2 separate regions of the Homo sapiens genome follow, and region 2 is reported to be linked to region 1. The links are microRNA targets in miRTarBase. Many come from high-throughput screens and were not tested one by one. Region 1 holds a microRNA gene; the other region holds the end of a gene's coding sequence.
Evidence for each region. The annotated mature microRNA hsa-miR-7110-3p reads UCUCUCUCCCACUUCCCUGCAG and lies in region 1 at 1,769-1,790, opposite strand. An mRNA with a match to its seed (bases 2 to 7 or 8) in the 3' UTR can be bound and repressed. Matches are read on the target gene's strand: a 7mer-m8 pairs with bases 2 to 8, a 7mer-A1 pairs with bases 2 to 7 and ends in A, and an 8mer does both.

Region 1 (3,114 bases):
TTTCAATGATGTCTAAATGTATGCTTCTGTCTTTCATATCCAATCCTTGGGTGAAGTCCAGGGGCCACTGCCAAGGAAGTGGGTGCTTAGGGGAAAAGAGAAGAGCTGAACTGGCAGGAGGGTCAATTGGAAAGTTGGAGAACTGCACAGAACAAGGGCTCTCAAAACCTTGATTTCCCTTAATGAAACCACCCACAGTGGCACCATCGTCAAAACAGCTGTGAAGAACTTGGAGGCTCTGTCCTCCTCTCAGCAGATTCATCAGCAGGAAGGACTTAGGCCAGGAGGAAGGGAGCTGGGTCCAGGAAAGGAGGGCTGTTCCTGCAGGCCAAGTCCCCATCAAGGCCACCAGAGCGTGCTTCCAAGTACTGCAGCTTAAGCAACGCCCCCCTGAACTACTGGAGGAATCCAACTCTAGGACCGCTACTTATAACTAAAGACAAGATACTAGCACAAGGCCACTCTGCTGTCCATGGAGAAATACCACCAAGCAGACAAAACATGTTACTGCTGTGCTCAGGCTCTGCCTGCACCGCTGGGCACAGGGCTGGGGTGTCAGTCACGCAGGAATGCAGAAAGCAGGAGGACTCACCAGAAAGGTGGGTCAAAAAGGAGATGTACACAGGCAGGAGGCCGAGCAAGGCACCCATCCATGGAAAACGTGGCGTAAAGATTTGGGGTTATTATGGTTGGTGGTGGGGGCTGGTGAGCAGATCTAATATCTGCACCTCGAGAACACACCATCCCTTCCAGCCAGGGTGCACAGCAAGCAGCTGGCACAGAGCCCCCCTTCCCCCACTCCATTCATGCCCCTGAAGCGGCAACTTAATTTTCTTTAAAGGGAGATTGGGGAGGGAATGGAGAGACGAAGAGAAGACAAATAGCTGGAGAAAGATAAATACCTAAGTAAGTTCCAGGAAAACACACACAGAGGAAACACACCAATGCTGAAACCGCAATGATCCAGAAGAAGCTAGTGTTTGGTTACCATTTGCTTCAGCATCCCAATTTCCCTGATCATCTTTTGTTTTTTTCTTTCTTTTTCTTTTTCTATTTTTGAGACAGGTCTTGCTTTCTAGCTAGGCTGGAGTAGTCATGCGATCATAGATCATTGCAGCCTTGAACTCCTGGGCTCAAGAAATCTTCCCTTCCCAGCCTTACAAGTAGCTGGGACTATAGGCATGTACCCCTATGCCCAGCAACTTTATTTTCTGTAGACATGAGGTCTCATAATGTTTCCCAGGCTGGTCTTGAACACCTGGCTTCAAGTGATCCTCCCACCTCAGCCTCCCAAAGTCATTGATCATCTTGACGTATTTCCTCTCATTAGCTTGTCATTTTCCAGCAGGATATTCTGCGGTCCAGTTTCCCTGTTCTGCTCTCAAATGACTGACAGGGGGCCGACACCCTCAGGAGTCACCTCCATGCAGATGGGGCACTGGAGCACTGCTCTGTACCTCCCAGCAGAGGTGGTGGAATGAGGAGGATGTGAGTATCCACCTTTTTTAGTACAGGCTCCACGAAAATAAACCATACCACCAAATAAATGGTTTAATTTTATTTCAAAATTGTACAAAATGGCCATAAGCGGCTATAAAAAATTTGTCTTCAGAACATGTGGAAATTCAGAAACAACAAAACAGGTATCATTCACAGTGTAATGGAAAAGCTTTTTCTGAGGCAGGAATTATAACTCTTCCTTCTTTTTCCCTAGTCTTTCATGGTCTCCCTCCCGGAGGGCTCGAATATAATTGGTAAATCCCAATTCCTGCAGGGAAGTGGGAGAGAGAGAGAGAGAAAGAGCTTTAATCCCTGAGCTGGCTGTGCACTCTCTCTCCCCACACCCCCAGCCCCTCCAGGGGGTCACTCCTATGACAGGGAGAGGTGGGCAGACTTCTGCAAGGTGGAGAGGGTCTGCGTGGCTTGCACCAGCCCCGACCAGCAAGTGAGAAAACCCTCGGCATCTGGAGTCCAGCCTGCCTCTGGGGACAGGACATCTGTGGCAACCCCTTGGGACTCTCCTCCAACAATGTCAAGCCTCAGCCAGGCCCAGGGCCTGGGCCTCTCGGTGCAGTGTTCCAGCTGACTTCTGCAGTTTCTGGGATGCTGCCCAGTGCTGCCCCTCCTCAGTGGAAGTTTCCCTGCCCATCAGCAGAGAGAGAGCTCTGGGCAGACGCCTCTCCCCCACTTACTGTGCGGTCGCTGTCATACTTTTCTGCGAACTTCCCATAGTGGTAGTAGTGGAAAGTGGGGTAGCCCTTGACCGCCTCCTGCTGGCACAGGTCTTGGTTCTTGTCTTTGACACAGTCAACAGCGGCACAGGCAATCTAGGAGCCAAGGTAAAGAGAGTTGGCACAGGGTGTCCCCAGGCTGAGGCCTGGACCCCACAACACAGATTGCACATCTAGTCCACGTCACAGGCCCACTCTGATTTTTCTCCTCAGTGGCAGGTAGGAACTGAACCAAAGCACCCCCAGCTCAGGACTCCTTGGAGACTGATGGTGCTTGTTTTCAATTTCCAGATGGGTAAGGTTAGGGGACTCGGCCTGGAGTGCCTTTAGACTGTCCTTTAAAATCAAGAGTATGATGATCGTAAAGGAAATGATGACTTGAAAGCATTTGTAAACACCACAGGTTCTGTGGTGCTATCTGTAAGGGACTGTAGGATTTAATCATTTCTCCACTAATATTTCCGGAACATTAGCTTGGGGGGACAGTATAGTGCCAAGGTTAAGGGCAAGAGCTTTCAAGTCAAGTTCCCCAAGTGCACTCTTGGTTTGCCTGGACAGTAAGACTTAAGGAAAATAACTCAGCCTCTTGGTGCCTCATTTTTTTCAGCTGTAAAATGGGGATAATAATAGTATCTAGGCTATCAGGATATTGTGAAGACTGAATAAGAGAATTCCAGTGAGGCCAGTGAGCACAGAACCTGGCACCAGATTCATGGTCAGGAAATGTCAGCTGCTATTACAGTCACTTCTTCCAACCCCATATACAAGCTCTGTCCCCACTTAGGGGCTCAGTGTCTGGGCAGGGGTTGGATAAAGGGACAATTCCAACATGATGTGATGTGAGGGATGAGGGAGGTGGTCCAGGTGCCAGGTGAGTGGGGCA
Region 2 (3,114 bases), not on the chromosome of region 1:
CGGCTCCATTTCTGCCAGATTCTGCCACTGGAAAGGGTTTACACATAGATTCCTGGTCTCAGGTATGAGAGTTCCCAGACGGAGCTGTTAAGCTTGGCTCCCGCCAACAGGTGGAGGTCTCACCTGTGTGTCTTTGCCCAGGTGACAGCAAAGCCATTTGAGTGTGCCCTCTCTGGCCTTCCCTTCCTGCTCTGCTGCCACCGTGGAACCACCTCCTCTTCCTTCACTTAGGATCATGTATGGTGGCCCTTCCCACTTTCAGATACCCACCCCCATCTCTCTTCAACAAGAGAGAAAGAAAAGCCTGGGGGACAGCCCACTGCAGTGAATAGAAATTCCTTCCCACTGACATGTTAAATACCTCTCATGGCAAAGGCTGGCCCTGAACACCCGCATCCGTGATTTAAGACTCTGTGGGTTGAGGGAGAAGAAGAGAATCCCAGGGATATCAGAGGATATGAGATCCCTTCCCCTCCCCTGCCCGGTCATCTTTCAAGCCCCCCAACCCTGAGCTGAGAACTAGAGACACGGGCTCTCCAATCAAGGGAGGCGGGTGACTTAGAGGTGAGTACAAGCCACCGCCTGGAGAGCAGAGAAGTCTGAGTGAAGGCAGCTGTGTCAGCCCCAGGGAACCGAGGCAATCCTCCCACCAGAGATCAAGACCCCGGTCCCAGGCCTTTTACTGGCTGTGGATAGGAGGAGAGAGAGAAGGAGAAAGCAATGTGTGAATGAGCACACATTTGGTTTTTGATACTGATTATAGCTGTAAGGAATTGACCACACAAGGGAACAGAGAAACTGGTTTGGCTATGTCAACATAATTCTAATCAAAGTCATTTATGCCAGCCACCTTACCTTTTGTGTGTAATAGTCACGTTACCCCATAACAATGATGTACCTTCATAAAGGTGGTTCAGAGTGTTTCTAAGTTTTGATTAGGGCAGTAATTGATTGATCTATCTAGGTGCCAGCCTTTGCAATTTCTTTCTTTTTTTTCTTTTCTTTTTTTTTTTTTTGAGATGGAGTCTCCCTCTGTTGCCCAGGCTGGAGTGCAGTGGCGCGATCTTGGCTTACTGCAACCTCCGCCTCCCAGGTTCGAGCAATTCTTTTGCCTCAGCCTCTTGAGTAGCTAGAACTACAGGCATGTGCCACCACACCCAGCTAATTTTTAGCTAATATTTAGAAGAGACGGGGTTTCACCATGTTGGCCAGGCTGGTCTTGAACTCCTGGCCTCGTGATCCACCCGTCTCAGCCTCCCAAAGTGAGCCACCACGCCCTGCCCAACCCAGCCTTTGCAATTTCTACCTTAAGTTATGTAGTCCTCTGTTCTCCACTTTAACAGATGAGCAACACCATTGCTTTTAAACTATTCGATAGAATGAGGTTTGAGTTGTGTGTGTGAGAGCAGGTTGTGTGCGAGTATGTGTGTGTCTATTTATTCAGTATTTCCCCTGATAACTTTCTGTTCTCTGAGCAGTTGCTATATAGCTTTCTTATTCCTGTGCTTGGAATTTGATTTTTCTTTTTTGAAGGCTGTAAATTCTACCTTTTTTCCCTTACATACACATATATATGTAGATATCCCCCCAATAAGCCTAACTAGACCTTACGATTCATAAATTATGTTGCCACAACAGCTCAGTTTAGACAAATTTATAACAAATTTGTGAAATTAACAGAACTTTGAGACCCCTGTCTTTCACAGGACCTGCAGTCGCCTGGGAACCACCCTACCAGAAGTGAAAGTGACACTCTCTTGCTTCTGTTCCAAGTTCTGTTGCCATTGCTTGGAGCAGTCTGATTCTCTACCTGAAAGATGGTGTTTCAATCAATCTTGGTGAATGAGAGGAGAATATTTAGTGCATAACTGGAGTTGAGTGAAAGACAATATAGTAAATAAATGAATGATGTTTTATCATTTCAGAAAAATATAGTGATAACTTTAAAATCATTAGGCAGTATTAGGATATCTTATGGAACTGTATTTTATATCCAACTGTGAATAACAGGTAAGTAGAAAACAAATTGCAAAGATTCATTTATGGTCATTTTTAAATTTGATTACCCATTTAAATCCAGCAGCCAAGTGGTTTCAACAGACTTTCTACTTGAGGTGAAAATAATAACACTACAAACATATGGCAGAGCTTCGTACAAGCATTTCACTCACAGAGGAGTTTATGTTTTCGAGGATGTAGGAAAAGATTTTCCAAGTGTGAAAACTAAATATATACAAAAGCAATACATTTTGTTATTAGTTAAATAAAATGTGTCTTTAAATATGGAATTCTTTGAAAAACTCACTTCATCGTCCAAAATTATGGAGACTATTTCACTTTTTTAATCAAAGATGGAATATTCATCACAGTTCCCCAAGGGATTTTCTAACTGGCCTGGGCAAGGAGTTCACTTGTAGAGTGTAGTTAGTGAAAACATCCAGTGGCCAAGCCTCATCAATAACTGTATCCAAAAGGAGACGCTGCTTGGGGTGTACCCAGAGAAAACACCAAGCTTTCCTGGCTTCCCGGCCCTCCCTCTCCCCATTAGTCTTTGGGGTGCATACATAAGTGTTGTGTGAAGTCTCTTGGGGTTTAGAAGATCTTGCACTCATTGATGGAGAAGAGCCTCCTTCTGTTTCGTCTCCTGGCCTGGTTGACGGCAGTTCGGACGGCGCACTCAAACACCTGCTGTACTCCCCGATTGCTAAGGGCTGAGCACTCCAGGTAGCCCTTGGCTCTGACATCCTGGGCCAGTTTCTTCCCTTCCATGGCATTGACGCAGGAGGCCCTGTGGGGCCCCATCTCCCGCTGGTCAGTCTGGGTGGCCACCACCAGCACAGGGGTACAGGGCAAGTTGCTCCTAATTTCACCAATCCACTTGTTCTTCAAGTTCAGGAATGAGTTATGGTTGGCCACAGAGTAGCACATCAGCACCACGTCTGCCTGCTGGTAGGACAGGGGCCGGATGCTTCTGAAGGCGTCATTGCCGGCTGTGTCCCAGAGGCCCAGGCTGATCTGGATGCCATCCATGAAGACGTCCACCCCTGTGTTCTCGTACACTGTGGGCTTGTAGGCCTCCGGGAAGGTCTCGGAGGTGAAGCGCACCAACAGAGA

Region 2: miRTarBase lists RHOH as a target of hsa-miR-7110-3p. Seed matches in the 3' UTR shown: 7mer-A1 at 276-282.

What each region holds. Positions count from the first base shown.
Region 1 is chr3:123,160,534-123,163,647 of GRCh38, reverse strand. MIR7110 (microRNA 7110) reads right to left here and starts at 1,854; the gene lies at 1,769-1,854. PDIA5 (protein disulfide isomerase family A member 5) reads right to left here. Exons shown (of 17, transcript NM_006810.4): 16 at 2,193-2,327; 17 at 1,544-1,768. The coding sequence ends at 1,688.
Region 2 is chr4:40,243,441-40,246,554 of GRCh38, reverse strand. It overlaps RHOH (ras homolog family member H), which reads right to left. Exons shown (of 3, transcript NM_004310.5): 3 at 1-3,114. The coding sequence ends at 2,593. Among named protein-coding and RNA genes, the nearest start is that of RHOH, 48 kb to the right of the region's middle.